Regions from separate parts of the Homo sapiens genome. Here region 1 is linked to region 2. Evidence: fine-mapped expression QTL. A gene starts in region 2. The other region holds a variant in brackets. All regions are shown on one strand. Distances are from middle to middle. Region 1 overlaps PVT1 (Pvt1 oncogene). Region 2 holds the start of PVT1 (Pvt1 oncogene).

What was found. PIP is the estimated chance that this variant, and not a neighbour inherited with it, causes the effect.
Region 1: its variant is fine-mapped to the expression of PVT1 in whole blood (TOPMed, PIP 0.99).

The regions. Positions count from the first base shown.
Region 1 is chr8:127,993,643-127,999,014 of GRCh38, reverse strand. The region is part of intron 4 of PVT1 (Pvt1 oncogene); the gene reads right to left. Among named protein-coding and RNA genes, the nearest start is that of MIR1206, 13 kb to the left of the region's middle. RefSeq lists an enhancer at 2,345-2,434. The variant A/G (reference allele first, on the strand shown) is at 2,400.
Region 2 is chr8:127,791,594-127,796,965 of GRCh38, reverse strand. PVT1 (Pvt1 oncogene) reads right to left here and starts at 2,442. Exons shown (of 9, transcript NR_190187.1): 1 at 2,232-2,442. It overlaps MIR1204 (microRNA 1204), which reads right to left and starts at 1,004; the gene lies at 938-1,004. RefSeq lists enhancers at 967-1,306, 1,407-1,456, 1,178-1,749, 1,750-2,319, 3,462-4,032 and silencers at 2,437-2,596, 2,607-2,666, 2,687-2,736.

The DNA of each region.
Region 1 (5,372 bases), 200 kb before region 2:
CTTGGATTCTAAGTCCTTTCTCCAGTAAAATGACAGGGGATCCTTGAAGAAATGGCTGATTCTATAACTGGGGCTGGAAATATACAAGATAAGCCCTAAGCATCTTATAGTGCCAGAAAGTATGGATGCACCAAAAAAAGAGAGAGAGAGAGAGAGAGGGAGGGAGGGAAGGAAGGAAGGAAGGAAGGAAGGAAGGGGAGGAGGAGAAGAGGAAGGAGGAAAGGAAGGAAGAAAGGAAGGAAGGAAAAGGAAGGTAGGAAAAGAAAGGAAGAAAAGGAAGGAAGGAAGGAGAAAGGAAGGAAAGAAAGAAAGAAAGAAGAAAGAAAAGAGGAAGGGAGGGAAGGAAGGAAGGAAAAAAGGAAGAAAAAGGAAGGAAGGAGGGAGTGAGGGAGGGAGGAAGGAAGGAAAGAAAAGAAAAAAGAAAAGAAAAGAGGGAGGGAGGAAGGGAAGGAAGGAAGAGAGAGAGAGAGAGAGAGAGAAAGAAAGAAGGAAAGAAAAGGAAGAAAGAAAGACCCATAATAAGAAAGTATGTCAAATGGGCACAGGAAGTAACTGAAGAGTTCCCAATAGCCAAGGAAGAAAAACCATGAGCAACAAAATAAAACCATATTATTGGATTATAACTCAAATAAATTAAAAATTATCAAATAAATACCTGCAAGTCCATGCTGATATATAAATAAATAAATAGGAGAGAGGAGTTAAATCTCCCAGGTAGAAAAAATCTAAATAGTTCATGTAGATCCTCTAGCCATGGAGAAGGAAGAGCAGGAATGCCCTCTTCTTAGGGGATGGCTATGCACAGTGACTTCCTTCTGAAGAGTTTAATATAAAAAGGGAGTTAAGAAAGAACAAAAACACAAAAGTATCTTTAAAGTGGACAAACCTGACAACCACTACAGCAGCCAGGTAATCAAAGTCAACATCAGTGATAGGTCATGCTGATGGTGCCTACCCTTGATTTCATAAAAGCGGAACTTTACCTCTGTGGCCTTCCTCCATAATCCCAATCTAATAAGAAGAAGAATCAGACAACCCTCACAGAGGTACGTTCTATGAAATACCTGACCAGTCAAAACTGGTCATCAAAACTCAAGACTGTCAATGTCATCACAAACCAGGAGAGTCTGAGAAAGCGGCACAGCCCAGGGCAATCTAAGAAGACATGATCACTAAATGTGATGTGGGATCCCAGATGGGATCCTGGACCAGGTAAAAACTAAAGTAATGTTTCAACTTCAGTAAATAATAATGTATCAATATTGGTCCATTAATTGTGGCAAATGTGCCACACTAATGCAAAGCGTTAGTAACAGGGAAAACTGGGAGCAGGGTATATGAGAACTTTTTGAACTGTTTTCACAATTCTCCTGTAAATCTAAAACTCTTCTGAAAATAGAGTTTATTCTTTAAAAGTGTCTGGAGGATGTGCACAAGGGTGTGGCAGCAGAGGGGCTACAGGTAAAAAATCATGACATCTGGAATATTTCCTTCAATTTTTGCTCCACACGGTGACTATCTTACCCTGCTCCCATTAAACTCTGAACAATGTTATCAGCCTGAAAAATGGATTGGCAGGAATGTGTAATGTCGAAGCTGGGAGGGACTATGGCGGCCATCCAGGCCCCTGCTTTCAATTACACTTGAGGAAAATCAAATCCAAAGACCGGAAGCGGCCAGGCTCGGTGGCTCACTCCTGTAATCCCAGCACTTTGGGAGGCTGAGGCAGACGGATCACCTGAGGTCAGGAGTTCGAGACCAGCCTGACCAACACGGAGAAACCCCATCACTACTAAAAATACAAAATTAGCCGGACGTGGTGGCGCATGCCTGTAATCTCAGCTACTGGGGAGAATCGCTTGACCCCGGGAGGCAGAGCTTGTGGTGAGCTGAGATCACGCCATTGTACTCCACCCTAGGCAACAAGAGTGAAACTCTGTATCAAAAAACAAACAAACAAAAAAAAAAAACGAAAGCAAATGACCAGTGAATGTTCCAGTTCAGTGCCCATGGGTAGAGCTGAAATCCTCAGGGTCCTGGAAGACTGATGGACAGCAATGTCAGCCTGTCCTCAGAACAGGCCACTCTGCAGAGGAAACCGAGGCTCACAAGAGCCAAGAGCCTTCTTCCCAGCCAGAGGGCTGGCAAGCAGCAAAGCAGAGAGCCAGGTTCAGGTCTCCTTTCCGGCTTCACAGAAGTGCTACCTCCCTGCTACCACTAACCCTCACACCCCCGACCCCTGTCCCCATGGCCAGTCACTTTCCCGTTTCCTCCCACAGCAGCAGGGGGCGGCGGCTGAAGACTCAGGTAAGATGCAACTCAGGGAGGATGGCACTTAGATTGGTTTCTCTTTCTTTTTTTCTTGATTCTGTCTTTATGAAACTTTGCTTTAACCCAAC[A/G]TTGTTTAAATCCCGACCTGGTTTCTCGTGAGCTTGAAGCCAGGGTGCCCACACTCTGCAAAAGAAGAAAAATGCCAGTATGAGTCCTTGAGGCTCAGTGTTGTTGTGCAGTCCGTGGACAGGACAATGTCCTCATTTCAAGGTTTCATTTTTGGAGGAAAAAAAATTCCTCAGGATGCAGGATGCCCTGCATCCCATAATGGGTATGCCCCCATTGAAACCAGCTCTGGGAGGGTGACCAAACTAAAAAGGAAACAGTTCCAAGCAGAAGGACACAAATTACCAGCAGAGTCATTATTACTCACAGCAATTCAGGCCCAGGGTCTATGTGGTGCAGGGTTTCTGAAAGCCGGCCTATACCTGGGAAGGAGGGAGAGAACCAGAGGCCTGGATGCTGGGTGGAGGTTCTGTGATTTACTTTGTTACAAATTTAAGAATAAAACCTGCTGGATCAGGAGCTTTTCCTATCTCCTCAAATAAACCTGGATCCCAAGAGGAACAGAAAGGAGAAAGGTGAGTGTGGGAGAGGAATTGGAGTGCAAGCTCAGAGGTCCTTGAGGGAGGGAGGAGAAGGTGTCTGCTTTGGGGAATGGCAATAAGAGGTATGTTGGGATGGAGATACCCAAATGTGTAGCACTTATACCGATTTAGCAAATGGTCCTCTCATTAGCAAAAGCTTCTAAACATTAGCCTTAAGTTTAAAAAAAAAAAGGACATTTGAAATTATGCAAAAGCCCAGAGCACCAATATGCGCTTCACATACGTTCCGCAGGAAGATTCCTTCATTTGCAAACTGGAGTATATTACGTAATCATTTCCATTTCCTGGCAGGTTGTGAAGAGTAAATGACATCATATAATGTAAAGTGCTTGAAACACCATGAATAATACATTTGAGCTATTACTATTTTTACCATGATTACTGGTAGATTAAAAGCAGTCTCTTCATGGCCATCTTGATTACTACTAGTACTAACACGACCATCACCGCAAACACTACTACTACTATAAGGATAGTACTTTATTAGCGGTGCTTAATAGAATCTATTATAATTCTCAATACTTAGCATATTTCAGGAGGAAAACTGACTGACGGACTGATATAATGCACAATTAAAGAAATGAACAAAGAAATGGATAGATTCCTATAATGTGGGGGGTGTATCTTAAAAGAAAAGCAGTCCAATAGGTTTCAAAGAGCAAAACCAGGAGTCAAGAGCTGTCTCTAATCCCAGGAGCCGGATGCTGTGAACACAGGAGTGTTCAATAAATACCTAACTGATGTCTGAGCAAGGAAGAGACAAAGAATGACAACAGTCAATTGGGCTTAGCTTAGATAAACACTCAAAGCCAGGATACAGACAGAACAGGACAAGAGTGGCTCTTACAGTCACTTGATTCAGGGTCCTTGTTTTAATGATGGGGCTGTGAAGGATCAAAGGGGTCAGCTGGGGCTCAACACTCAAAGGGCAGCTTTGGGCCAAGTCAATCAAACCAGCCTGGTGAGCTGAGATGCACGTTACCCAGTAAATACAGGTATTGGGATAGACTGTGTCTCTGCAGTGTGATGGTTAATTTTGTGTGTCAACTTGACTGGGCCACAGGATTTCCAGAGAGCTGGTTAAACAGCATTTCTGAGTATGTCCAGATGAGATTATCACTTCAACCAGGAGACTGAGTAAAGCAGATGGTCCTCTTCAATGTGGGTTGGGCCTCATTCAACCCACTGAAGGCCTGAATAGAACAGAAAGGCACAGGAAGGTTGAATTTCATCTCTGCCTGATTGCTTGTTCTGGGACATCGATCTTCTCCTGCCCTTGGCATTCCTGGTCCTCAGGCCTTCGAATCTGGACTGGAATCTACACTACAGGTTCTCCAGCCCTCTGCCCTTTGTGACACGACAGCTGTTTCCTAGGTCTCCAGCCTGCAGGTGGCAAATCACAGGACCCCTCTGGGTCCATAATTGCATGAGCCAATACCTTATAATAAATAAATCTCCTAGATATAGATATAAATATCAAGGTAGATATTGATATAGACATGGATACGCATCTATCTTCATGTTCTATTGGTCCTGTTTCTCTGGAAAGCCCTGACTAATACATCTGTATATTTTGAAGGCTTTAAAGAAGGACAAAGCTCTTTTTTATCCACTCTGTTAACTCCTCATAGCCTATCTCAGCAACTGACTCATAACAGGAAAGTGGACAAGGGCAGAGAGGACAGGAGGGAATGGCTACCTCCTGCCAGTCACCACACAAGGTGCTGGGGAGGTGGGTTCAGTGAGACCCAAGGCTCTGCTCCCAGGGAAAGTTGGAGAGATCGTGTTTCCAGGCGAGATCCCAAACACAGCCCCCATCAGCAGAACCCGTCCCACAAGAGGCACTGTAGAGAGAAAGATCCTCATTTTCAGAAGAAACAGAGCTGAAAGAAGGGACTAGGAGTGGGCAGAGGACAATGGTGGAGAAGGAGAGACAGTTGGAGAGGGGGTGAGGAGCAGCACAAGAGAGTACAGAGAATGTGCTGGGAGAACAGGCAGGCACAGGGCAGGTTTAAGGGATTCAGAAGACTCATGTCCTGATTTGGGAGCCACCATCCATGAGCAGGGGGGATCTCAAGCAATGCAATTGCTCCAAGCCTCCAGTCCCTTCATCTGTGAAATTCTGGCATCCATGAAGCTAGCTTCACTCCCTGTGATTCCTTCAGAGAAAGCACAGTGGCTTTTCTCCTTTATTCTAGGCACCCTGCACAGTGGCACACTGCAGGTTCTCGTTCGATATTTGTGCAATACAAGAAAGGAGAAAGGATGAGAAATCACTTTATAAACTGTAAAGTCCTGGGCAGATGACAGGGCTGCCTTTGTTTCTTAAGGCAGACTGGGGAGCTTCTGAAAGGGGAATACTTTCTTCCTCACTTTGCCTTTCCAGCCCCAAGTCAGTGTCCTGAATTCAGTTAACTCAAGAAAACGTTCTCC
Region 2 (5,372 bases):
CGGAAGTTGCAGTGAGCTGAAATCCAGCCATTTTACTCCAGCCTGGGCAACAAGAGTGAAACTCTGTCTCAAAAAAAAAAAAAAAAAAGCAAAACAAGAGAAAAAGAAGAATCTTATGTCTGCAGCCAACTATGAAAGGAAATGCAAAATAAAAAGGCCACACATCCAGAAGGGCCACCTGATATAAAACAAATAGCAAAGGGGCAGCCATCAGCAGGCCTGCCACTGCCTCTCCAGACGACCTGGACCGGCAACTATCCAAAGTCTTCCACTTCCCCCAGATATTCTGCCAATACTCTGCCCAAATGCAGGGCCACTCACACAAACAGGAGGAAAGAACAGGGTGTCTTATAGTCCAGGAGATCTCTTGACAAAGCTGCCAGAGAAACGTGTCCATCTTGGGCAGGCAGAAGGCCCAGGCATGGCAAACACAGGCTCCAGAATCCAGCCAGAGTGCCTGCCTACCGCTCAGGAGGCGGAAAAAAAAAACAACTAAAGAACAGGGAATTGATTTGATGTGGGCAGTGAGAATTCACCAGGTTTTCAGACCAGCAATCATATAAACTAGTGGGGATCAGATATGTCAGAACAGAGGGGAGAACTCCTCCTTTCCAGTGCAGAAAAGCTCCAGCCACAGAAACACAGCATGGAGGTGGCGAGGGGCGGGGGAAGGTGTTTAAGACAGAGGAAAAGGAAAGTTAATCAGAAAAAAAACAAAACAAAACAAAAACGGACTTCTATTTTTCAAGAGAAGCCGTTTATGCAAAAATTCTGCACTCAAGATAGATGAGGCAACAAGAATAAGCCACTCTTAACCAGGCAAAACAGCAACACAACCACTTAACAAATCCCTCTGGGAATTCAATGGGTACAGCATATACCCCACAGTCATACCCGTAAGTGGAATTCCAGTTGGGCCCTTGTGCCGAAGCTTTAGACCACGAGGCACGTCCTCACCTCCAAGATGTAACTCATCTCAAATAATGGAGACCAGGCCACGAGGTTTCTCCCAGACACGGATTCTGTATTTGTCCTTCTGCAGCTTCCGGGAAGGTTTTTCTCCTAATAAATCCTGTAGAAAGTTCCACTCAGGGTTCTGAGGATTGATACAACCCCCTTCTTGACTGATCAGAGCTTTAGAAAGATTCGCTATGACCACAGGACTGTGTCAAGTTGAACAAGTCTCAACTTGTCGCTGCCAGTATGCAAAATAGGTCTGAAACATCTTATAACAGACAACACAGCAGACACAGTCCCTGCATCCTCAGGGCCCCCGCCCACCCACCACACACAAACACATTTCTCTAGAGTTTTTTTTTCCTAGCAAGGAACTAGCCCCAGTAGCCAGGATTCACAGTGGTGGAGTGGGCGAGAGACAGGCTAACAGCCTCTCTCTGGAAAACCTAATACCAGAAAGGAAACACCAAAACCTCATCCTCTTGTCCCTAAATCCTTGCACGTGATTTCTTCTCCTCTCTAATGTTCTAGAAGGGCCTAAAGTCAGGAGCTTAGATGAACAGAAGAATCTTCCATGCCTGCAAACCACCAGGAAAAGGCATGAGGCATCCACACACAGACGCATGCAGCTTCATGGCTGTGCTTCCTGAAAGTCTACACCCAGAACCACAAACACTGGCATAAATAAGAGCACGTTAGCAAGAGAAGGCAAACCTAATTAAATCAACAGCCCAGCCAAGAAGAATGACCATGATGAGGGTTTAGGAGCACCCAACAAACCCTCACATGCGATGCAAAAACTGAGAAAGTCTCAAAACACGGAGTTACTGAGTTTTTGGAAATCACCTTCGCCCAGCCCTGAGGGGGTGTGAGAGGAAGCGGGGAGTGATGGTCAAAGGATGGAGGGAGGATCACACATTCACAGACCTCTAGTTTCGCCAGAGGGGCCTCCAAACCACATCATGGCTCCAAATCTGTTCTGACTGCAGAGGGGTCTATTTTTAGAAATTAGTTAATATGCCTTTGATCAAGTTCATAAATCCAGAATTGCCTCTATGCACCGGCCATTCGGTGTCATCCCCCTCCCCTCACCCTCCCCAAACGCCCAAACTCGCCACCAGTCTTGAGGCTGGTGATGAGGACAGTGCACGCCTAGCACACACATATTGGATTCCGAAAGCCCCTTTCCTCCGTCCGACTACTCACAGCGCATCCCTACTCAGGGCCAAGTCTCGAGAGTTTCCAGAAACGCAGGGGACAAAATTGGAACTTACTGGAGGGCAGATCTGGCCGTGTCTCCACAGGTCACAGGGACCGCCAACATCCTTTCCGCAAGGAAATCCACTGGAAGGTGCCGGGGGTCCCGGGGCACATCTTTGCTCGCAGCTCGTCGTCGCCCCTCCTCGTCCCGGCCGCCCCGAGCCCGCCCGGCCCGCGGGCCCATGTGCTCGGCCGCCACACGCGCTCTGCCCGGAGGAGCGCGGGGCTGGCGGGTTGCCCGTGACGTCACGGCGGCTCGCGCTCGGGCCTCGGGGGAGGGGGGAGGCGCGCGCGGCCCGGCCCGCCGCGTGCGTCCTCGGTCCCGGCGCTCCCGGCCTTCCCCAGGTCCCCGCCCGCCGCCCGGTGCGCCCCTCAGCCTGCTTCCCGGCAGCGCAGGGCACTGAGCCGGAGAGGGCCGCGCGCGGAGGCGGGGCGGGCTTGGGCGACTGCGGCCGCCAAGGGCCCAGACTGGGGGAGCGGAGGGTAGGCTCTGCCCTGGGCTGGGGGTCCTCGCTACAAGCGCGCCGGAGTCCCACCGGGCCGGAGGGAATCCCCGGTGATGCCAGCTCGCTTGTGCGCCGAGCTTTCCACGGTCTTTCCCTGAGCCCTCTTACCCTTCCCCACACCGTCCTGGAAGCAAGCGGTCTTCCCACTTTCCTGCTGAGGAAGGCGAGTTCAGTGAAATAGGAGGGCCAGAGATGCTCCGGGATAGGTGCAGTTCCCGCAGAAGACCGCCGACTGAGCTCCAGCTCCAGTGATCTGAGCGCCTCTTTGGGTACCACCCAGCATCCGCCGGCCTGGTGAGAAGGGCGCGCGCACCTTCTCGCCTCCTTCGACGTCTCCCGCTGTTTCCAGAAGCCGAGTTGCAAACCCGTGCAGAGGGCCAGCGGTCTGCGCAGCTCCCTCCACTCCGGGCAGAGTTGACCTACAGAGTGTGTTCAACGAGTCCCTTAAATGCCCAGTAGTTCCTCCAAAGGAGCAAGTGGACACTGGCCTCCCATGTGGGATGTGGTTATCTTGTTCTATCTGCATAAACCCGAGACTGGACAGATGTAAGAGCTGCCCCTGTTCAGTTCAAAGTTTATTTTATTTATTTATTTATTTATTTATTTATTTATTTATTTAGAGATGAAGTTTCACTCTGTCACCCAGGCTGGAGTGCAGTGGCCCGATCATGGCTCACTGCAACCTCCGCCTGCCTGGTTCAAGCGATTCTCCTGCCTCAGCCTCCGGAGTAGCTGGGATCACAGGCGCGCGCCACCACGCCCAGCTAATTTTTGTAATTTTAGCAGAGACAAGGTTTCACCATGTTGGCCAGGCTGGTCTCGAACTCCGAACCTGAGATGATCCACTCGCTTCGGCCTCCCAAATTGCTGGGATTACAGGCGTGAGCCACCACGCCAGCGCCCGTCCAGTTCAACGTCTACTGAGCACTTAAGGGGAGTCAGGCACCCAGCTAGGCAATGGGGTGGGGGTTACTCATGGACCCTAGAAGGACGTCACAAACCAGCAAAAATTGGACACACAAATGGGTGGTATCAATATTACGGAACAGAAGGTTGCCCCTCTTCTCCCCTGCCGGCTACCCTACATCCTACTCACTCCAACCTACCCGGAGGCTCCTCCCTCTTTCTGTGTAGTGTTTCATCACATCTCTTCCCGTGGCGGCTTCTCAACGCAAATGTTCTTATTTGAAAAAGAAAAAACAATTACTCAGTTGATGCTCCTGTTCTGCCTGTTTCACAGATTCATTTACACTCATGGGCATCTCTTTTGTGCCTGGCTCCTTGCCAGGAGCTGGACAAGTCTCCGCTTTGTGCCTGGCTCTCTGTGAGGGGCTGGACAGGTGTCTGTTTTGTGCCTGGCTCTCTGTGAGGGGCTAGACAGGTGTCTGTTTTGTGCCCGGCTCTGAGAGGGACTGGGCAGGTGCCTGAGCTGCAGTTGGCATCTAGTTGTCATCCATCTTTTAAAATATAAAAAGAAGATGATGAGAAACCTCTGCATCTATACATCATGCGATAGGAGCTGTGAGACCTTAATCCTTTCACTGCTTAATCATTTTTTCCAGAAACCAAAGGCTGTGACCTTGAGGAAGCCAGTGTCCTCCTGGGGGATGCTGGTGGGCTATGAGAGGACCAGCTTCTAATGGCAGACGTCTCTGTCCATGTCCTGACAGTTGATGCCCAGTCCCTTCTGCATGGAAAATCTCCCCTGGCTGAAAAGACACTTTCACCCAGGACTCACTCAACTTTGACCTTGATGCTGTTTGCCCTCTCTGGGTCTCCAGCTCTCATGCACTAATCTTAGATTCACATTTTCCTTTTTATTAATTTCTTTTTTAGAATTAAAACATTTTTTCAGTAAAAATACAAAGAAAAAATAATATTTTAATATTCCTACCATCCAAAATAAACATTTTGGTATATCTGCTTTTGTTTTGTTTTGTTTGTTTGTTTGTTTGTTTGTTTGTTTGTTTTTAAATGGAGTCTTGCTGTGTTACCGGGCTTGAATGCAGCAGCTCAATCTCGGCTCACTGCAACCTCCACCTCCTGGGTTTAAGCGATTCCCCTGCCTCAGCCTCCCATGTAGCTGGGACTACAGGCGTGCGCCACCATGCCCTGCTAATTTTTTGTATTTTAATAGAGACGGGGTTTCACCATGTTGGCCAGGATGGTCTCGATCTCCTAACCTCGTGATCCACCCGCTTCAGCTTCCCAAAGTGCTGGGATTACAGGCGTGAGCCACCGTGCCCAGGCCTGCTTTCATTTTTTAAAAGTCACTTTTCTTCTTGCAAAAGTGATATTATATATATATATACACACACACACATACATACACGTTGTAAAACATTAAAACTCTGCAGAAAAAAAAATAGAGAAGAAAAACAAATTTTATCAGCCAGAAATAATTTTTCTGAATATCAGATGAGGCCTTTTTGGGCACAGATGGATACATATAGGCATAGATCTTGATATAGATATATAGATGGATGCAGGATTGACAAATAGATAGGAAAAATATTTTACAATGTTAATGTCTCATAGTTGCAATTTTTAAGAAATCTAATTTTTTTAGTAGAAGAAAAGGAAGCTAACATAAAACTAAAGGAATTGTTGTGTTTTAAATATTTATTTACCACATGAGAAGCATTGCTT